Homo sapiens: one gene and its partners. The protein of the gene in region 1 purifies or fractionates together with the protein of each later gene. This does not show direct contact. Each region holds a gene or a part of one and is shown in the gene's direction. Other genes may lie near its edges.

Region 1 (5,682 bases):
AGCGCCAGAGCTCCTAAGAGAAAAAATAATTATATACAAGAGATTTAACTTACCTGATGGAAATGGTTGGGAAAAATCAAGTCCTGCCTGGCACCCTAAATTCAAAACAAAATACATTTTGAAAATTAAAATCAACACAGGAATTAACACTGTATAAAACACTCCCAACTTCACATGTGACATAGCATAACAGGAGACAGTAGATCACAGAGTTGCAATCTTTATTCTGTTTCTCAAGGCCAGCATTCCAGGTAACCAGCAAAAACAAATTACAAAAAAAAAAAAATACACTATATGCTGTTTGCTCTTAGTAAATGTCACTGTAGGTCTAAGAAATTCCCATGACAGGTGCCATGAGAGCTTGACCATTAAGGTCAAACATGGAAGAATCAACAGGCTTTATAATCTGCCCAATCAAAATCCCATCCATTTTTACTTACCTGATGGCAGTTGAACCAAAATGAAGAACATAGCAAATAGAAAATAAAATGTCTTCCTGATCAGGGCCATCTTTTAGGGAAGACTCTTCGGAATAGAGATTGGGATTTCCTTGAGAAGACCCAAATGAGAGGCTCATTTTTATTTAAAAGTAATGGGGAGATGCTCTTGATCCGTGAAGTGAATCAATAAAACACAATTATATGCTCCATTTCCCAGGATAAAGGGATGATATCATGGATAATAACCCTTGGCATCCAGAAAGCCTTTTATTTTGGGGAGTCTAACTGGTGTAGTGGAAAGAACACCAGGCTAGAGGTTGAAAGAGCAGGGGCCATGTGAGTTTCCACCATACTAATGCAGGGGCCAGAAGATAGTGACCCCTTTCATCTCTTCCAGCTTCTGTTTTCTGGGAGAAAATAAGAACCCACTTGCAAATTCTGCCTGCCTCTAAAGGTGTTGTAAGAATCTAGTATGATTATAATGCAAAAGTGTTTTGAATATGTGGAATGCTTGGAAGGAGGCCTGGTACCATGTAAGAACTCAATAAATGTGGACTCTCACTTTTCTAGCTTTCATTTTTATTCTCTACAAGTATCACAGGGAGAAAAGGAGGGGTAGCAATCATTTTGTCAAGTTAGCTCTGAGTCCCCTTTCCTGTAAGATATCACCTCACGCACCAAAGCCATAATTACTGCATATTTTAAATTCATTAAGGACATGAATATTGGCCCAGATGGGTGGCTTATGTCTATTATCGTAGCTTTTGGGAGCCTAAGGCAGGTAGATTGCTTGAGCCCAGGTGTCTAGGGCAAGGCATGATGGTTACCAGCTCCTTGCTGCGCCAACAGTGCCATGGTACAGGTGAGCAGCATGGCAGGACCAAGCACGAAAAGCGTGCAGCATACAGCAAGATTCACATTTTTTAACAAATATATGCTTAGGTCAAGCCCTTTGCCAAGTTTACAAAGCTCAAAAAGACTGAATCTGGAATTCAGATTCCACCTCACTACGGTTCCTCAGCTCTTAACTGAAGCATTGAGATATTGTATAATTACTCCCATTTTACATATGAGTAAACCAAAGCTGTTCAGGAACACAGCCAGGATTAGAAACCAAACTACTGGACTCCAGATTTTTTTATTTTTTCTGTGTCTGCCCTACTCTGTCCTCCCTTCATCCCCACTTTCCTTCTTCAAAACTTTCCAGAATCAGAAATATGATGAGCTGTAGACTGAGTGACACCCACTGAGGTTGGGTGGGCTCTGTGCAGCAGAGCATGGAAATCCTCTCGTTTCTGCTAAGCCTCACTGATCAAGATGTTACTTGGTCTGGAGAAATGTATAAATGTGGGTGTTTGCGGCTCTTTCCTCATGGACACGGTGCTGATCTCTCAAGACCCACCCAGTCATGAGGACTTTCCTCTTTCTCTTTGCCGTGCTCTTCTTTCTGACCCCAGGTAAAATGGGCATCTTTACAGGGAAGGTGATCGGAGGTGGTGTCCCACAGACAGGGTCCCCTTCAGTGAATGCCTGGGCGTGATCAACCCATCTACTACAAGAGGTGATATTCCCCAACGCCTCTTCTGTAATTCCTTTGCATTTTACATTGTTATCTAGGAGGGGCTGTCACAGGTTTGAAAGAATAAAAGAAGGCCAGGAAAGATGCCTTTTGGCATCCCATCTCATGCTCACTAACAAAAACAAAAATTGAGAAAAAATTAAAAACAAGGATAGCAGTCTATGAACCTTTTAAAATGTAGTTATGGTAGAGATTGAGACAGGTAAGGAGAAGGGACAGGTAAGGATCTGAGCTTAGAGACACCTATGCACTCATGCCAGTCATGGCAACAGGTAAAGCAGCGTAACTTGGACTGCCATTTCTTGATCACATATCATCAAGCCAAGTACTGTGATGAGAGCTTCACATAAAATGCATCTAGTCTTCCAGTGCCAGCGCCTTTACGGAAAACTCTGTCTTACCCCTAATTTAATGGAAGTTAGAGAAAATCTTTTTGGGTTTGAAGGTCCATTTTACAAATTTTATTACAGATGCAGAAATTGTGCCTCAGATGGGCTCAGTGCTTCTCAGAGTCTTATAGATAACCAAAACAAAGCCAGGGTAGGAGCCCAACTGTCTTGCCACAGTAAGAGGCATTAAAGACACCCTTCCCATATCAAAACTCTCTTCATTTTCTCCTGCTCCTGGGAATCTCCAGTGGCTCCAATTGTATCCTCTTCAAAATTAAGGCTTAAGACCAGGCTCATGTGAGCCTCCAGAGAGCTGAAGAAAGGGATTCTCAGAGCCCACAGTAACTCCCAATTTCTGCCAGATACCAGTGATATACGATCCCAGGTATGATGCTCAACTTTTCACATCAGCTGCTCATAGCTCTGGTCTGTTTTGTGACAAGCCTGTGAGAGTAGATTCTGTGTCAAAACATGAGGATCTAGGACCCACAGTGACCTATGCCGTATTCAGGCCACTGGTTTTGATATGCACGTTCGAAACTGGCCAGAGGTATCTTTTTCAGATCACTCATACTTATTATATAATAAGTCAAAAAAAAGATGTTATATACTATAAAATTATCTGTTAGATAATACTATAATTATAAAAGTATAATTAGTTACTATAATTATTATGTAATTACAGATACTTATCTATAATTACATAATGCTTGTTATATAATTATTAGATAATCTAATAATTACCTATTAGATATACTAGAGTATAATACTATAATACAATAGTATTAGAGAAAATCTTTTTGGTTTAGTATAGTATTATAGTATAGCATAGTATATACTATAATTATTTACTGATGTTACAGTATGGTATTGTACTAGTATTATATACTATATAGTATTGTACTAGTATATATTATATATATATATATACATATTTTTTTTTTTTTTTTGAGATAGAGTCTCACTCTGTTCCCCGGGCTGGAGTGCAGTTTCACAATCTCAGCTCACTGCAACCTCTGCCACCGGGGTTCATGCGATTCTCCTGCCTCAGCCTCCTGAGTAGCTGGGATTACAGGCATGTGCCACCTTGCCTGGCTAATTTTTTGTATTTTTAGTAGAGACGGGGTTTCACCGTGTTGGTCAGCCTGGTCTCGAACTCCTGACCTCGTGATCCACCCTCCTCAGCCTCCCAAAGTGCTGGGATTATAGGTGTGAGACACTGCACCTGGCCAGATACTATATTATACTAGTATATTATTACTAGTAGTATTATATACTAGTATGTAATATAGTATATATACTAGTATAATACTCTAGTATATAGTATAGTATACATACTAGTATAATACTCTAGTATATAGCATAGTATACATACTAGTATAATACTCTAGTATATAGTATAGTGTATATACTAGTATAATACACAAGTATATAGTATAGTGTATATACTAGTATAATACACTAGTATATAGTATAGTGTATATACTAATATATACACTAGTATACAGTATAGTGTATATACTAGTATAATACTCTAGCATATAGTATAGTGTATATACTAGTATAATACACTAGTATATAGTATAGTGTATATACTAGTATAATACACTAGTATATAGTATAGTGTATATACTAGTATAATACACTAATATATAGTATAGTGTATATACTATTATAATACTCTAGTATATAGTATATATACTAGTATAATACTCTAGTATATAGTATAGTATATATACTGGTATGATAATATAGTATATATACTATATTATTACTAGTAGTATTATATACTAGTACATAGTATAGTGTACATACTAGTATAATACACTAGTATATAGTATAGTATACTAGTATAATACACTGGTATATAGTATATATACTACTATAACACACTAGTATATAGTATAGTATATATACTAGTATAATACTATAGTATACACTATTATACCAGTATATACTATAATACTAGTATTTTTATAGTATATACTAAGCTATACTATGATACTATACTAAACCAAAAAGATTTTATCTGAATACCACGCTATAGTCTATAGTATAGTATTATATTAGTATCTGCCTTACAGTAGGGCAGAGAGAACATAGACCCCTGCCAGTGAGAGCCAGAGTTCATCGAGCTTTGAAATAGTGGAGTATTTTCACTTATGAACTGATGTGCTGATCCTGGATAATCATTAGTGCATATGCTGGCACTAATCCACCTGGCTGTAAGTTTTATGTAGATTTGAATTAGGCACCTTTATATGTTGACATTAAATGTATATACATTATAGTATAGACATTAAATGCAATCTCTGTACATCTGATGCCTTCATTATATATACACAAATTGGGCAGCTCTAAAATGTTGATCCTGATAAGACGTGCTGTCTGTCCTTAACTTGAAGCAGGCTGCTCTTGGGACTGCTACTGATAAAGCCCTAAGGTGGGAACTGGAATTCTCCGCAAAATGAACTGAGAAAATCTTAGAAAAACATTCCCAACATGCTGCACCCTCCTTCTCTAAAGCACAAGTTTTCCGCAGTCGTTGCTTTGGTGAATATGGAGGAGAAATCAGGCTGAGCCTTCCAAGCAAGTTTCTATCTACCACAGTAAACTCATTCTCTTTTTATATCTTTATCCCTTCCTTTGCTCTGGTCTGGAGCTATCTCCTCAGTCTCAGCTCTTGCTCTACTCTCACCAAGTAGCAGCCTCTGAGAGTGCACTAGGAAAATTAGCAGCCTCTGGGAGTGTTTATGGGAACAAGTTGATAATTATCCCCAACAGATTTCGATTAAAGAACCATAGCTTAGGGACGTTTCCCAAAGCTCCTACACAGCTTGGTCTCAAATGCTGGAAGACAAATGTATTCTTTCCGGTATTTCACCCTGTGTGACTATGAGACTGAAATATCAGATAAAAATCAGGTCCCCTACCATCTCATTTACCGGTAGGATATGGCACTATGACAGCTTGTGAAAAAATCTTCACCAAGTAGTCATACAACTGTATCTGGTAAACATACATGTCTGAAAAGGGAATTAATCCAAATGGCTCCTTCCCTCGTGTAGCCAAGAATGCATTTTTTGATGAGAAATGCAACAAACTTAAAGGGACATGCAAGAACAATTGCGGGAAAAATGAAGAACTTATTGCTCTCTGCCAGAAGTCTCTGAAATGCTGTCGGACCATCCAGCCATGTGGGAGCATTATAGATTAATGCAGAAGATTTAGGTTTCCAGAGAAGCATACATAACCTAGCTTCTTTTTACTCTTG
Region 2 (5,226 bases), on another chromosome or scaffold:
ATAAAATCCAAAGCTGTCTTGGAAGTGGCTTTGTAAGTACTGTGAGAGGAAGTGGTTTATTCTTTCAACACAGAAAAAATACTTCATGAACTCTACTGTCCACCAGGATCTGGGGACATAGTGATCATGCACTCTCTCTCTGTCCTTAAATAACTTGACTACAGTACGGCTAAGCAGAGTGTGCTGTGGGAATATGCAGGAGGAACACCTGACTCACCTCAGGTGGGTCAGTCAAGCCAAGTTATAGGTGACATCTGAGGGCTGTTGAAGCCAGTGAGACACAGGGTGATGGCACTCCTATCAAAGGGAACAGCTCGGACAAAGGCCCAGGCATGAGAGAACAAAGCTATGTGCCCACAATAAGAGAAGCCTAGACAGACAAGAAGGTGGCATCTTGGGAGGGTAAAGCAGGAAATGGAATAAGTAAGCAGAGGCCAGATCATAGAGAACCTGGTGCTGTCTGAGGATTGCCTGTGACTTCTGGCAGGAACTGGTACTCTGTGGGTCCAAATGGGTCCAGTAAGGACAAATTACACCAGATTTATTTAATTTTCTTTTGGGGTAAGGCCTCTGGACTGTCTGATGAGAAGAGAGTGGTGTTTCAGATACATGGTGAGCAAAAATTATAGGTAGGGTGGTAGTCCAGTTCAGTAGCTTCATAGCTGGTTTATAGTTCTCTCACAGGACTGTTTAATGATTAGTGTCAGGTGAGGCACAGTGGCTAATGCCTGTAATTCCAGCACTTGGGGAGGCCAAGGCAGGAGGATCACTTGAGCTCAGGAGTTCAAGACCAGCCTGGGCAACATGGTGAAACCTCATCTCTACGAAAAATATGTCGGGCATGGTGGCATGTGCCTGTAGTCTCAGCTACTTGGGAGCCTGGGAGGTTTGCAGTGAGCCAATATCATGCCACTGCACTCCAGCCTGGGCAACAGAGCCAGATCCTGTTTGAAAAAAAACTGATTGATGTCTGTCCAGGCAGTGGTTTCCTAGCAGCACCTCCAAGCCCTGTCCCAGGAAACATTCTTATCAGTGACTTCGATGAGAATAGTGATGGCATGTAAACCAAGTTTACAAATAACAGGAAGGCAGGAGGTACAGTAAAGACAGTGTATGATAAGACCCAAAAAAGCTGAAACTTTGTAACAAGATTTCAAACTGGAATATAGTGTCCTGTAGGGTAATGAACAATCCATCATAGAGTACATTCCAGTCTCTTTTTTTTGAGATGGAGTTTTGCTCTTGTTTCCCAGGCTGGAGTGCAATGGCACGATCTCAGCTCACCACAACCTCCGCCTCCCAGGTTCAAGCGATTCTCCTGCCTCAGCCTCCTGAGTAGCTGGGATTGCAGGCATGCGCCACCACACCCAGCTAATTTTGTATTTTTAGTAGAGACAGGGTTTCACCATGTTTGTCAGGCTGGTCTCGAACTCCTGACTTCAGGTGATCTGCCCCCGCTAGGCCTCCCAAAGTGTTGTGATTACAGGCGTGAGCCACCGCGCCTGGCAGATACATTCCAGTCTTGACAAACACAGACATAAGGATGATTTAGGTGTCCGATAGTAGGTTGGACTAGACCAGGAGTTGGCATACTTTTTTCTGTAAATGGCCAGAGAGTAAATATTTTAGGCTTTTCAGGCCATGCAGTCTCTGTTGCAGCTACTCAACTCTGCCTAAAATGAAAACAGTCATAGACAATAATTGAAAGAAAGAGCATCATGGCTGTGTTTCAATAAAACTCTAGTTTGCAAAAACAGGCATCTTTCTGGATTTGGCCTGCAGGCTGTAGTTTGCCAATCCCTGGATTAAGGCCTGGTTTCCAAACACTGATCACTGAACAGAACTGGTCAGTAACTTTTAACAATTCATAGGGAAATAAGAAAGTTAGAAGCAAGGTAGTGAGTTTTATATAAAACTAAATTTATTCTCTTTAATTGGTCATCCTGACTTTCAGTATTCTTTGCTGGTCTTTTGCTGCAAAATACCTTTTTCTTTATGAAACGAAAGTATAGTAGGCAGCAGTTTTCAGGTTTGCCTTTGCTTATTAATAGCTCTACTGACAACTCAGTCCGCAGATTTCCTTTTGGAAATGTTATAAGCCTAGGAAATTTAAGCACCTGGGAACCACCAGCGCAGGAGGATACAAAGTGTGAACTACAGCCTCTCACTCTCATGTTCTGTCTCTCTTCTTCCCTACCTCCCGGGCCTGCTGACAGCGGTGGTTGGGGCTGGGATTGGGGGCTCTGCTGTGGCCCATTTTCTCCAGCAGCACTTTGGACCTCGGGTGCAGATCGACGTGTACGAGAAGGGAACCGTGGGTGGCCGCTTGGCCACCATCTCAGTCAACAAGCAGCACTATGAGAGCGGGGCTGCCTCCTTCCACTCCCTGAGCCTGCACATGCAGGACTTCGTCAAGCTGCTGGGTGAGTGGTCAGTCCTGGGGCTCCAGTGCCCAGCGCCCTGGGGCTGGTGACAGCACTGGGCCCTTCTCAGACTTCCCAGACCATCAAGGCCAGAAGGTCATGTGGCCCAATCTCATTTTACAGATGGAGCAACAGAAACAAGAGAGGGGAAGGAACTTGCCTGAGGTTACACAGTGAGTTAGTTGCAGAGCCGGGATTAGAACTCAGGTTTGACTCCTAGGCCAGTTTCTTTCCCTTTCAATTTGCTGCCTCTAAATAATCGTGATTATATCACCTTCCACATGCTAGTGCTTGCCAGGCACCTTCTGGGTGGTATGTAGGCATTACCTCAGCTCCCCTCTACCAACCTGCAAGATGAGTGTTATATCTCCTCTTAAGGCAACTGAGGCTCAGAAAATGTATAGATTTAAGCTAAAGCCATTACAGCGAGAGGTGGGATTCAAACCCAGCAGCATCTGTCCAATACACGTTCTGTTTGATGCAGAAACTCTGCTTCTCAGAAGTGATGCTACAGGTGGTCTTACAGATGTGCAAAGTAGCATAGATACCAAGTTATTCACTACAGCATTGTTTGTAATAGCAAAAGGCTGAAAGTATCCTAGCTGCCTATCCACTAGGACCTGGGGTTAAACAAATTATTGTATAACTACACAATAGGCTGTTCAGCAGTCAGAATGGGGAAGTCTTTATGCCCAGATACAGGGCAATCTCCAAGATACAGTGTATTGTTAAAGTGGAGAGCAGTGTGTGTAGTATGTGGGGGTGGGGAAGGAACAAGTCATAGCAGCTCTGTCTGTGTTTAGGAGTCCACTGCTCTGTCAAGTTGCAGAGTGCAGGATGGCTGTAAGGAGCTAGGATAACTTCCAAGTGATCTCAGTGCCCAAGGCCACCATCTCCAAACAAGCCCAGTGGCTGTCACCCCCTGGACATTCTGGGATAAAATCTGAATTTCCCTCACTTGTGGATCCTCCTGGGGAAAAAAAATGTAAAATGTTACATTATTTTCATTTTCATTTTTTTATTGACTTGGTAGTCCAAACATTTTCCCAGTGCATCTGTTTACTGTTTATTAACAAGCAGCACAAATGAACAAACCATAGCATTTGTGTTTCCTTTAATGGACCAGTCCATTTGCATCAAGAGGGCCCCAAGTCTTGGAGGGGACCTGAGGGGCTCCTCTTTGTCTCTGCAGGGCTGAGGCACCGGCGCGAGGTGGTGGGCAGGAGCGCCATCTTCGGCGGGGAGCACTTCATGCTGGAGGAGACTGACTGGTACCTGCTGAACCTCTTCCGCCTCTGGTGGCACTATGGCATCAGCTTCCTGAGGCTGCAGATGTGGGTGGAGGAGGTCATGGAGAAGTTCATGAGGTAGGGCTGGCAGAGCTGTGGGGATGGCGTTCCAGGGGAACCGAGAAGAGGTGGGGGAGGAACCAGCTTGCCTGTACTTTGTGAAAAAGGAAAAGGTCCTTGCTGAATTGAGCCAGCACAATTCAGTGCAGGCTCAGAGCAAGCCCCTGGCATGAGGAATGGCCGTATTTGGTCCAGTAATGGTCTCCCTAGTATTGTCACATTGACTCTCATTTTCTTACCCTCTACTACACTGATACTAATAAAAGCATGGGTTGCAAACTCAGTCGCTTAACAAGGGCTGAACTGGGATGCGAGTCAGTGAATCAGCAGGTGGAAGAGAGCAGAACAAGGCCCCCTCTGAAGGAGGCAGCCAGCCCTCCACCGCAGCCATCTGCAGCCAGCCGTGTACAATGCCCACCTCATGTGGCTAGATCTACTCACTTTTCAGAAGAAGCTGGAAATCCAGAGTCGTGTGTGAAATCTTTTCAGTTTTTCAACATTTGCAACCAATTCATCTTGTAAGCCAAATGAAACACTTCTGCAGGGCAGATGCAGCCTGTGGACCACTCATTTGCAAACTTTGTTGTCCTCATTTTTCCATCTAGAATAAACACCTTTCTTCACCACTCCTCCTATCCCTGGGCTCCAGCCCCCTCCCCATCACCTTTGGTCCCAGATGTGGAGGGCAAGTGGTCTGTTCCCTCCCTGTTCACCAAGCTGTCACTCCACCTTTCCCCAAAGTCCCTCCTGAAGGTGCTCCCTGCTTCCAGCCTAAGGCGCAGGGGCTGCTCCCCGGACCCCATCACTGTCTGCCTCCCTTCAGTGTCACTCAAGTGTGGCCTGTGCCCTCCTGCCCTGGTTCCTGGCACTTCTCCACTCCCTTCCCATTCTATAACTCTGCTGTTTATAGCACTTCTTCCTTATATTCTCCAGATGTCACCCAAAGCTTATTTCCTTACCTCTCTTTCTGATATTTTTCTCCCTTATCAATTATATCCAGACCAATAATGTTGACTTCTACGTTTTATGGGAAATGACTTCTCCCTCTCAGCCCTAGTTTCCTCTTCACTTCCAGACCCACATTTCAACTTTCTGGACACCTCCATCTCGTGTCCTATTGATAACCAAACTCAACATGTTTACAAAAGAAGCCCTAGAATGGGCAACATTTCAAAGGCCAGCCAGTCAGGAAATCCATCGATGGTTCCAATCCATGCTAGTGAGATTGCATGAGTGATAGAGCGACAGGACATGAGCCTGGGGGTGAGTGGGAGCCCTGTCAGATGAAGCGAGAGGAGAGGACAGGCTGGACTGGCAGAGAAGGTGACAGTATCAGCATGAAGTTGCAGTGTGTCATCAGGTCCTAGAAGCTGTGGCAGAACCGACACTGTTGGAGAAGGAGATGTGTCAGCAGGGGTGGGCCGTAGCCCCAGCTGGGTGAAGAAAGGGTTATG
Region 3 (5,814 bases), on another chromosome or scaffold:
TTCAAATAGATAGATTAGAAAGGTTAGATTTGGTAAACAGAGTTTATATAAAAATTTCAATGTCTGGAATTTGGACCAACAAAAACCATATCAAGCAAACAAATAAAACACAAATGACATCAGCTTCCAGGGAATAGGTTTATATCTTTTAGGATGTGCAAAGAATATCCCTAATTTGGAACATTAAGTATTCCCAGGTCATTTCCATTTTCTGGGCACTACACTAAATCTAGCACCCCTTACCATGCCCTCGCCATTAGTATTCGGTCACCAAAGAATTCTTATATCTTCAGCCTAACTACAGAGCTCTATGTAACCAGAGTTCACAGCCTTCTCTACTGACACCTCGTGTAATCCTGAATTAATCCCTAGTAGTTTCCTTAAATCCCTCTTCAGCCCTGGGTAAGTGAGGACAAGAGACAGTAAAATGTAGGTTATTACAGTTCATGTTTCCTCATCTATATGCATGAACTGGCAAGGCCAATGGAAATTTGGATTATCATTGTATGGCAAGGGAGAATAATTAATGTAACACGCCAGTCCACATGACTGCTTTCTTCTCATACTTATGTCACTTTGGGATTGGTTAATTGTAAATCAACTGTTGCAAACACAGTAGTGGGAGGGATGTCTGAGTTAATGTGAAGAAGAAAACAATGGTGAGTAGAGCCTTAATTATGGATGACTCTTGGTAATTCCAAGAAGATTATCCAGTATGTGTGTCACGTGGGTCCCTTGCCTTTTACCTATTGACCATTTCACCACTTGAAAGTACTTTATATCCTCAGTAGGTAAGAAATAGAAAGGATATGGGATTCAAAATATTCAGCCTATGAACACTGCAATTAGAATATGGAGAACAGGGAATCCATTTGTAGGCTCATTTTTTTTTTATATTAACAACAACCTTCTCCTTCAGAAAGTTCACCACAACTGCTAAATCAAAATTAAATTTCAGGGATTTTCTGCAACTTTACTTTTCTCTATGATTATTCTACTCATAAACAATCATGGAGGTGAGCAATAACTACTTTATTCGATTTTGGATAAGTTAACAGGACCCCCTTCTTCCTGGGAAAGAGGCAAAATTGCACAAAATTGAGAGGCGAGCAACTGTAAGATGATGGTACCTTCTAATTCCAATAGCTTTTTACAATAGAGAACCCAGTTACTTGGATAAATGTTGGCTGTACTTTTGAAAACACTCAGGCAGAAGGACCAGGCTTGCAGTCATTTCCATGCATAGCAGGTGAAGGTAGGTGCAACATACAGCTCAACCTCATGATGCTACGGCCAGAAACTGAAATGTGTTTTTGCCCCTGTGTGGCATGTTCTGATGGCAAAGGTGTAGGCAACCAACTGGGCCCAACCTACCTTTCCCTACACCTGGTCACTTTTCAAAGTGCAAACCCACTTTAACAAACTCTAGCCTGTATTATAGGAGGAAGGATCTGGGTGGTGCAGACGTGGCTTTCCATTGCCAGATCAGAAGGGTGGAGGAGAGGCTGGCAGGATGACAAGAATGAATGAACACACCAAGTTTCAGCTCCTATCTGAAGCTGCTCAGTTCAGGTAAGCATTTAGAGAAGCCAGTTGCAATAACTAACAGGGCAAATGTTTCTCTGGAAAATTCCAAGCCAGAGAAAATTGAGAAAAAGAGGGAAGGATGGAAAGCAGTACAAAGAGAAGCCAGCTCAAAAGGTTAGAGGTCCAGATGAAAATCTGAGATTGGAGAATGATAAAAAACATTGTGTGAGATTCTATTTTAGGTCATTATGCTAGGGAAATTTACACAGGATAGGGTTGAAAGAAATTAGGCTATAAGATGAGTGGCAAGTTGCAATAAAATGGCACCCTAAACTCACCAAGTCACTGTTGTCACTGCTATCTTGCCTTAGTTGATTTGATGTCTAGTTAGTCTATTTGTGTGTTTCTCACAGAAGAGTATGTTTTGACCCAGGCTGACAGATACTGTTGATTCTGAAATTTGTTTTTATGGTTATGTTAAAACCATTGTCATTATAAGAAACAGAGATGGGAATATTGCCTCCTGAAATCTGATTCACATACAAACTGAATGAACTACATAACAACCACCTTAGTCAGATACTATTTTGAAACCTGGTTCAAAACCTAAATGCTTATAAGATTCTTGAGAGACAGTGCTGTGCTCTGAGTCATAGGGAAGCCATCCCAGAAGCCAGGTCTACTCATCAATAAGCAGCTGCCTGTGCAGAGTGCAGGCTGCACCTTTGGACAGCCTTTAAAACTGAATTCTCAGAATTTTAGAACAAATTTTTGTCTAGAAATGCTGACTTTGGTTCATTAGGTAGTGGTAAAACAGGCTCCCTTCGAAGCTCTCCTTCATCACCTTCCTAAGTGCATGGGGGAAAATACCTAGGGCTCAACAGTCTTGAGAAGTGTGGAAACATTTTCTTTGTGAGTGAGAACAGATCACCTAGAGAAAGGAGACCAGATTCCCATCACTGCTTCTGGGTATCAGATGCTAGCGTGAGTACACTGTTGATTTGCTTATCCAATTATTGATTTACATTATTGCTCTTATCTTCTGTTGTAGGCAAGAGGTAAGTTCACTAACGAATCTCAAGGAAGATGTAAATGGCCAATGATCATGCTCAGAGGCCTGAAATCTCTCCAGGTCGCCTCCTTGGAGGGATGCTTTTCTGGTGGGGCAGCTTTTATCACCATACACAAATGTGCTTGGGTTTGGATTCTGCTGGAGAGAACACTGTGACCCGTGGTCTCTTCCTTGGGCCATGTCAGTCAGTCTTGGACTTATTTTGCATCCTATTCTTTACCTCACTGATGCCTGTGTATCCTTGGCTTGGTGTCCCAGCCCATTGTCCATCAAAACCTGCTATCAGGAATAGATCAATTATCAGTTATACACAATGCGCCATGACCCTATCCCAGAGGCATTAGGTCATTTGGCTTCATGTTTTTTTTGTTGTTGCTGTTGAGTTTTAAAATAATGAAATATAATGTAGCTACATAAAGATGAATTCAATAGATGCATACAATTTAATAATAGAACATCACCAGAACCTCTAAAACCTCCCTCCCCATTCTTTCACCAACAAAACCTCCCCACCCACTAGGGGTAACTAAAGCAGTTATATCCGTGGCTTAGTCTATCCACCCATGTAAGCATCCATTAAAAAACAGTTTTGTCTGGTTTGATCTTTTCATGAAGGGCATCTTACTGTGTGTATTCTTTCGTGCCTGATTTATTTGCCTTCTAAACCTTACTTCTATCAGTGGCGTGGGAGCTGATGGCTACTGCTGTGGTGATTTCAGACAGTCTTGAGAAGATGAGGGTAGAGTTTTGTGGTCAGAAACCTTCTTGTGTGCCTTAAGATAGTGCGAATTGAAAGACCATGTCCTGGTATGAAGCATAGTTTTTGGGTATACTAGATAAACCAAGGTCTGTGAGAAGCTCTGGTAGACAAAGGGAAGAAGTGGGTCCCAATGGACGTCTAACAAGGACTGGGGGGTTTAAATCATTAAGACTATGATAATTTTATCCACAGTTGATCTATAAAGTGTACTATGATATACTTTTCACAATGTAAGCTTTCTCTGGAGTTAATAATTATCAAATTTGCTCATTTTTTGGATATTTATTTGGTTTCTAAGTTCCTATCACTAATGTATTTCTTTTCTGATGGGGGTAGATATCCCTCTCCATGTGTTCAATATATTCTAACGCATCTCTCTCTCTGATAGCATATTCACCTTAGAGAGCTTCAAACAGTCAGCATACTCAATTTTAGCATTAATCATACAACGAAAATAAAGGCAGTATGGGCAAACACTTGTGGGAAATAATGTGTAAGATAAAGTCAGAAACACTATGTGAGGTACAACCCTACTTCTCTTGAGAGGGACAGCTCACCTGCCTCCCTTAAATACAATGTTCCCCAAATACAGCATAAATACCATGTTAGTGATTATACACATACATAGCAACACACACATATATATATGTGTGTGTGTACTAATGAAAATGTAATTGGTGTGAATTTTTATTTTATGGATGAGAAAAGGCCCACTCTATTCTATAGCACTTTGCTTTCTTCACCTCTCTGGGACTGCAGTGCTACTCCTCTATGACAGTTGAATTTATAGATGTCAGAATATGAATTATTCCAGGTGGGGCTCGGTCATATTCATCAAATACCAAAATCAGAGCAGGGAGGAATCAAATAAACAATAACAAAAATCAGTAACTACATTTCCACATGTAAGAAGTGCCAGTTGTGCCTTAATGTAAGGATATCTAAATTTACTACATAAAAATACTATGTGATACTAAATATCAAATGAAATAACATTTCATGCTAAAATTTGATTCATTAAAAATATCTATTTGACTACTTTGAATTAGAGCTATAGCTAATATTCTACAGACTTCTTTTAAATTGCTCTATAAAGCATCTGAATATATTTATTTTAATGACATTATTTAAAACTATCATGGCCATCATAAAAAAAAAAGTAGGGAGTGTCTGAGTCAGAGGCTTTATATTTCAGAGTAATGCAAAGAACTCTTTCAGACTCACCCAACCAGCGGCCAACTTCCTCTATGAAGACAGTAAGGTAAATACTTCTGAAGTCCATAATTTAAAGTCTGGCCAGATCCTTTGAAAAAAGACACACACACACACACACACACACACACACACACACACACACACACAGACACAGAGAGAGAGAGAGAAATAAATCTTGGTTACTTTGTGTCTGAGACATTAAACTCATCACACAACATCCAGATCGGATAATGGTCCTCTTGTCTGCTTCTCCACCTTACAGCTTGTCTATGACTGATTTAAGTGGTGTCATGGGAGAATGGCATGGGAATCGGATGCCAGCTGAAAAATTTGTGTTCCATCTTTGAAGAGATAAGTAGGGATTATGTGCAAATCTAGATTCTATATTTCCTGTGTTCTTATTTAAGGCATTATAGGTTGGAATATACTAGATTTTGAGATTAGAATTGAACTCTTTTAAGTGCATAATATACTAATTTGATTAGAGGTTGATCAAAATTTGAAACTATGTTTTTAAAAGAAATACAAAGATTTTAAAATATTTCTTCCAAGAGTATCTGTATAGCATCGTATTTGACTTATTGATAAGAATAAAAATTAATCACATTCAAGGGATTATTCATTTCTTTCCTATATGTATATCCTAATTCAGTAAATATAAAAGCTTTTTTAAAAAATAATGTGTCATGAACTATAATTAATTTTCTATATACAGGCAAAAGTATCCTAAGACTAGATAATACTTTTATCAAGCATTTAAGGCACATAATTTATCAGTTAGGTGTAATAAGTTTAGGTCCATAAAATAGTATCATAACTTTATGTTTTATTGAATGTGTTTTGTGCCTGAATTTTCTTATGCTTTATTTAAAAACTACTTTTTGCTTTTTATTAAACTTTAAAAAGAAGGTTTAGTGAGAAAATATCTATTTTTATTGTTGTTTTGATGCTAATAATATATTAGCTAAAGGATGAAAGGGATAAAAAAGTTCTCAGATTGAAATAGACCATAAGGAATCAAATAGGCTTCAGGCTGCCATGGACTTTTAGACCCTCAAGTCTGAAGTTTGGGATGTAAAAACATCCATGAGTACGTGCTAATTTGTGTTAACTTTAAAATTATAAATTAATTGCATGCTTGTTTGTTAAGCTAAAATATTTATGCAAGAAACATAAGAATATAGTATATTTTTAGCAAAATGAAAAATCAGACTTTAAAACCAAGTTCTTTTATGATTTG
Region 4 (5,760 bases), on another chromosome or scaffold:
CCTTTCCCCTTATAAAAGTACATGTGACTGCAGTTAGGACCCATCTTGATCATCCAGAATAATCTCCCCAACTCAAGAAGACCCTTAATTGAATCACATATGCGAAGGCCCTGCTTCTGTCTATGTAAGGTAATATGCACAAGTTCCAGGACTTAGAACCTGTTATCTCTGGGGAGGGAACATTTTTCAGCCTAGCACACGGGTGACACAGTTTCTATCTTTATTAAGCACAATCCAAAACACCTTTGGACCATGAAAACAGTCTTTTGTCCCTTCCATCTTGTTATTCAAAACTATGTTCCTTATTTTAAAAACCTTTCCTCCCTGCCTATCCCAGAAGGGACAGCGGCTCTCAAAGGCAGCTGGGTGAAGTTTCTGTAAGATCTCAGCACTAGCTCGCGCTGCTGTTTTGGAGGCATCTTTCCAAGGCTTTAATTAATTAGAGGATGCATTCTAGCCCTGTTTCCCAAACTTACATATTCCCGATACCTCTGATTCAGTAGATTGCGCGACGTCTGGCAATCCAATTTTTTCTAAGTGCCCCAGGGGATTCTTATCATCAGCCAAGATTTGGAAACAGTAATTTCTTATACAAAGTCCTGAACTAATACCCTTGAAATAGGGGATTCCCCTTCACTGCCGGGTGTGTCGCGGTTACAGGACTGAGTTTGTTGAGGGAGGAGGAATGAACAACCCTGAAAACTAAACTATCCTACCTTGTATATTATTCACTGAAAGAGTTTCCTGGAGGGAAAACTTCCAATTCCAATTAAATCGAGGATGACGACGGCCCGGATTTGGCAGTCCTGCAGCTGTCACTAGCTCGGGACCTCGTGCGTCTGAGTGATCCAGCCCGGGCCGCGCCCTCACCCAGAGCCAAGGCTGTGAGAGCAGCTCCAGCGAGGGGGCAGGGTGGCGGCGGCAGGGCTGCTTCAGGGCCGGTGCCGGTGTCCTCAGAGCGGCGTTTTGGCACTGGGGTGGGCCGGGGCGTGGCTTTCGGCGCCACCTCTGCAAGCGGCCGCCACTCCAGAGTGGCGCAGGTAGGGGGCGTGGGAAGACCTAAGTATATTTATTCCGGCCTGCGAGCGGGATGCTGGGGTTGCTCCAAGGGACCAGAAGAGCTGCCCTGTGTCCCAGAGCAGGCTGGTTCTTCTGACAGCGCTGAGAACCTGGCGCTCGCGCCTGGCCAGGTAGGGGCTGTGACTGGACGCTCAGAACATTTGTGGGAGTGTGGAAATCTCTTTACGGGTGATGGGGCTCAAAGTCTGACGCAGCCGAGGGTTGATGGGGTGCAGTCACGCTCAGCCAGGGGACTTTGGGGGCGCAGTGTCAGGCTCAGCCAGGGAGTGACAGGCGCAGTACCAGCCTTATCTGGGGGTGCTGGAGGCACAGGCTCCGGTTCGGCCAGGCGGGTGTGCGCGCCCAGGAAGGGTAGGAGCCTGCAGCCGCAGCGGGGGGCGCTGGCTGGGGCTCTGCCCCGCCGGCAGTGCGCTCGGGCGCTGTTCCAGCGCGCGGCAGCGAGTGGCGCTGAGCCTCCGCTTTCGCAGCTCGCGGGGAGCGGGGCCGGCGGGAGGGGCCGGGCGGGGCCACCGCCTCCTCTGATGGCAGGCTCCTCCTCTCCCTCCGCCTCCCTCGCTCTCCACCGCCCGCCCGCCCGCCCGCCCAATCCACAGTTCCCGGCCCAGCCGAGCCGGGCTGCTTGTCTGGCCGGCGGAGGCTGAGCGCGACCCTAGCAAGCCGCGGCGCCCGCCGACCAGGGACAAGAGCGACTCCTGGGACCCCACTCTGCCCCGCGCCGCCGCCTCCTCCCCTGTTGTCGCGGGGACGCTCAGGCCCGCGCCGCCCGGGCCACGATTCTCCTCCTCTTTCTCCCGGAGGGGAAGGAACGGAGAAAGCCGAGCGGCGGCTCCGGGAGAGAGCGAGCCGAGGCCCCTGCCCCCGAGGCTCGGGGCAGGAGGAGGAGGAGGAGGAGGAGGCGGAGGCGGAGGGAAGTGCGCGTCACTCTCGGGAGGAGAGTATTTCACCTCCAGGCAGAGGCTGCGGCTGCCAGTTGAGTACGAGCGGCAGCTGCGGGCGCCGGCAATCGAGTGGCTTCCTGGCCATGGAGAGGAGATCTGGACCCGAGGACGCCAGGGACTCCTCTCCGTCTCCCTGGACCGCTGTGTAGGCACCTGAGTTAACGGACGCTAAGCGGGGTAGGGGAAGGTAAGAAGCGACTCGGTCACCCGCCCCCCCACCCCGCTCCACCTCGTTTGCTGCCCTCGGGGGCCACTGCGGGGACGCAGACCCGGGTCTCGCCCACCTTTTCTGCTCCCGGCGGCCTGGCCGGCTCCGGCGTTGGGCATTTCTGCCGAAAAGGAAAACGTCCTCCCGCCCTTCCCCCGTGCGCCTCCTTTCCCGGTTTCATCTCTGGATTGGGACTGACCCGACTCCCCAGGAGTCAGTCCTCTCTTCTTAAGAAAGGGTCCTCGGGAACGGTGTCTTGATTTCTTTCTCTCCACTCTCTCTTTTCATTACGTTTACGGGGAAGGGAACAATGGACCTTTCAAAGTCGGTGCGAACAGCCTTAAACTTTCTGGAGAGGGATGGGGTGAGGGGATAAACCCCACAGTAAGCCGATTACAGTGAAAGGTTGATGGAATGTGCTTTGCAGTCCGGGCTTCAGTGCGCGCGCGCTTGTGCGTTTGGGGTCATCTTTGTCTCCTTACAATTCCCCTGGGTTGGTGGGTCCTCCGCCCTCCGCCCCCTGCCTCTCTGTTAGCTGAGGTAAGGTGAGGCTTTAAAATCGTGTACAGCTTCCTTTAAATCTGGGGAATAGCCTTAGCCCTGGACCCTATTCCCAGCTTTTCTCTGCAGAGTTGGGAGATCCTGGTAAAGGAGGGGGGCCCTCTCTGTGAGGACCCAGAGTGCTGCTGTTAATAGCACTAGTGGCTACACCCTTAGCGATAAAACCAAGGTCCTGAATTCCCTGGATGCTCTCTGCTGAGGGTTGATGAGTGTCACCAGACTTCGACCTGGAGCGGAAACAGCTCACTTGAATTCTCCGCAGGTTAGGAAAACAGACTTTGATATATATCTCCTTTTATCAGCAGTTGGGATTAAGGATAGACTGCCTAATAATTTTTAAAACTTTCATTGTGCACATGAGCTACTCACTGCCTTGAGTTCACTCCCCTTGATTCAGTGTGACAGAGTGATGCGCTGCTGCACAGTTGCATGTATTGAGATGTGCTGCTCTTCCCGGTAAAAAGTGAGAAGAATTTAGAGAGAGGGGAAAGGGTAGAGGCTTCACCTGAGCTGAGGGAGGCCTGACTCCCCAGAGCAGCCAGGCAAATCTGTTGGAAATGGCTCAGTGTTAAAAAAACACCTTTAAAATGGTTAGCCTTATCTTTCTTTGGTTGGCTAGAATGGAGCTACTAATGCTTATTTGACCCTTGAAGGACGCTTGTTCTTTTCAGAATTGGTCTGGGTATCATACTGTGGTTGTGGGTCTGATTACCTATACAAAGGGTTCTTTTTAGTTTGCATTTCTGGGCAAAGCAGAAGAATGTGTAGTAGGCATGTCCTCTGCTTAGTAAACATTGGGTAGCACTTTAGAGTGCTTTTCTCTTCACACCGAAATGACTTCCCCCAGCTTCTGTGTACCTGCATTAGAGGATCAGTTTGGGCGGAACTGGAAATCTGTCTTCTGGCTTTCTGTTCAGTCCTCCTGACGCTGTTTTTTTCTGATGTATGTGTGCTTAAAGGCTCAGAAAACTAAGATTAGAAGCGAATTCTGAGTCATCACCTGTTCTTATTAACCTGTGAATGAGATAGTGAGCTGAGGACTCTCCTGTGTGTGGACAGGGAAATAGAATCTGTAAATTCTTACATGGTGTTTATCTGGATATTCTGTGTCACAGTTAATTATTTGAGTAGTCTCCTTCCTTGATCTAGTCTGTAACCAGTGACTTTTCAGAAATGTCAGATTCATAACAGGAAACCAGAATGGGGCAACACTTCAGTCATGTTCTAATAGGCCTAATCAATGCTGTCCTCAAACAGCTATCAAGAAAAGACAAGCTGGAGGGTAATGTAGTCTTGTGGGCCATTATCTTGAAGTTGACAGGGTACTGCTTAGAGCTACATGCTTTGGGCAAGTTTCTGAAATTGAGAAAGACAAGCCACATTTTAGAAAGAGGAAACTTAGGCCGGGCACAATTGGCTCACGCCTGTAATCCCAGCACTTTGGGAGGCCGAGGCAGGTGGATCACCTGAGGTCGGGAGTTTGAGACCAGCCTGGCCAACATGGTAAAACCCTATCTCTACTAAAAATACAAAAAAAAATTAGCCAGGTGTGGTGGTGCACGCCTGTAATCCCAGCTACTCGGGAGGCTGAGGAAGGAGAATCGCTTGCACCTGGGAGGTGGAGGTTGCAGTGAGCCGAGATCGTGCCACTACACTCCAACCTAGGTGATGGGAACGAGACTCCATCTGAAAAAAAAAAAAAGAAAAAAAAGAAGAAACAATAATCACTACCAAATTCATGGTCTTAGACTCACATGGAGTGCTGTATGTAAATGTGTGCATTGTGATGTGTGCTCTAAAATATGTATGAGCATTGCATCATTCACCCACCCACCATCCATTCAGCTAGCACTTATTAATCACCTATTGTGGTCCAGACCCTCTGGAAGCAATTGCAACACCTGCTTTGTGGAGCATTCATGTTGGTAAAGAGAAGGAGTTGAAGTGGTTGCAACCCGGGAGGCCACAGGGATTGAAGATACCTGTGTCACTTGCAACTAGAGAGATGACAATCTCTGCTATTGAAGAAATGAGCCTAGCCCCGGACATAAGGAAATGAACAATTAGAAGGTCCAATAAGTGCATGTCTGGGAGAATTACGCACAGAACGCTCTAAGAAGCCAGAGAAGGAACAGTTGGGGGTGGGGGAGCAATTTTGTGAGAAATAAAATTTGTTAAATCAGACAAAATAGTAGGGACTGAAAACTAGTGTCAGAAGTACTATCTTAAAATGGTGAAGATTGGAGGACTTGAAGTCAGACTTGGATTTAAAACAAGGCTTGGCACTTGCTAAACATTTGCTGTGGGCAAATCCCCTAATCCTTCTCACGTTGTTTCTTCACCTGAAAAAGGAGTTTTAAAATGCTTTATGGGAATGTTTTGGGGATTCAATTTGAGTAAGTTTGCTATGTATTAATATATGATAAAGTACTGTACAGGCTAATGCTGTCTGGTATCAAAAGGTACTTTCAAAAGTTTTTTAAAGCTATAAATAGATATAAATCATAGCTTAATCAGGTCTCAGCTACAGATTTTCATTTTATTGGCCCTTTCCAGAATGATCTGAATCCCATCTTGAGAGCAAGTCTTTAGACTTTTAAGCTAGTTACTGTCATATGGTATTGCTCTCTTGTCCAGGCTTCTTCCCATCCCAGCCACAGGAAATCTTTTCATTTCTCTTGGATTGTGAGCATTAGTGAGAAGAATGGGCTGTCTAGTACAGTACATCAATTGAAAAGGTCTTGTCTGGTTTTGTACGGTAACATCCATTCTCCCCTCTGCCTCCCAAGCCAAGCTAGCCCTTCTGTTTTCCTCTCTCTCAATATGATGAATATGGAAAAGGAAAAAAAAAAAAAGGAAGAAAAGCTATGCATCTGCCTTTTTGAGAGTATGAAAATCCCCATTACTAGTTTTCTCCATTTGTAAAGAGGTATAATTTTCATCTAGATTGTTAAAGTCTATTCTCTCAATAGC

What was found.
Region 2: the proteins of DEFB106A (region 1) and PCYOX1L purify together in Homo sapiens (affinity purification with mass spectrometry, with the first as the bait; one large-scale study listed by BioGRID). This does not show direct contact.
Region 3: the proteins of DEFB106A (region 1) and SERPINB7 purify together in Homo sapiens (affinity purification with mass spectrometry, with the first as the bait; one large-scale study listed by BioGRID). This does not show direct contact.
Region 4: the proteins of DEFB106A (region 1) and CEMIP2 purify together in Homo sapiens (affinity purification with mass spectrometry, with the first as the bait; one large-scale study listed by BioGRID). This does not show direct contact.

What each region holds. Positions count from the first base shown.
Region 1 is NC_000008.11:7,823,329-7,829,010, forward strand, and holds the start of DEFB106A (beta-defensin 106 precursor), read left to right. Parts: upstream 1-1,810; 5' UTR 1,811-1,848; coding exon 1,849-1,897; intron 1,898-5,476; coding exon 5,477-5,625; 3' UTR 5,626-5,682. Other genes in the region: DEFB105A (beta-defensin 105 precursor), read right to left, coding at 54-95, 441-510. UniProt on the Homo sapiens protein: Has antibacterial activity. Acts as a ligand for C-C chemokine receptor CCR2.
Region 2 is NC_000005.10:149,360,421-149,365,646, forward strand, and holds part of PCYOX1L (prenylcysteine oxidase 1-like isoform 1 precursor), read left to right. Parts: intron 1-2,216; coding exon 2,217-2,423; intron 2,424-3,615; coding exon 3,616-3,790; intron 3,791-5,226. UniProt on the Homo sapiens protein: Likely to have oxidoreductase activity. Required in the mevalonate pathway to regulate prenylation and enhances the bactericidal activity of neutrophils.
Region 3 is NC_000018.10:63,773,206-63,779,019, forward strand, and holds the start of SERPINB7 (serpin B7), read left to right. Parts: upstream 1-2,212; 5' UTR 2,213-2,511; intron 2,512-4,575; exon of another isoform or gene 4,576-4,620; intron 4,621-5,814. UniProt on the Homo sapiens protein: Might function as an inhibitor of Lys-specific proteases. Might influence the maturation of megakaryocytes via its action as a serpin.
Region 4 is NC_000009.12:71,764,802-71,770,561, reverse strand, and holds the start of CEMIP2 (cell surface hyaluronidase CEMIP2), read left to right. Parts: upstream 1-2,048; 5' UTR 2,049-2,205; intron 2,206-5,760. UniProt on the Homo sapiens protein: Cell surface hyaluronidase that mediates the initial cleavage of extracellular high-molecular-weight hyaluronan into intermediate-size hyaluronan of approximately 10-5 kDa fragments.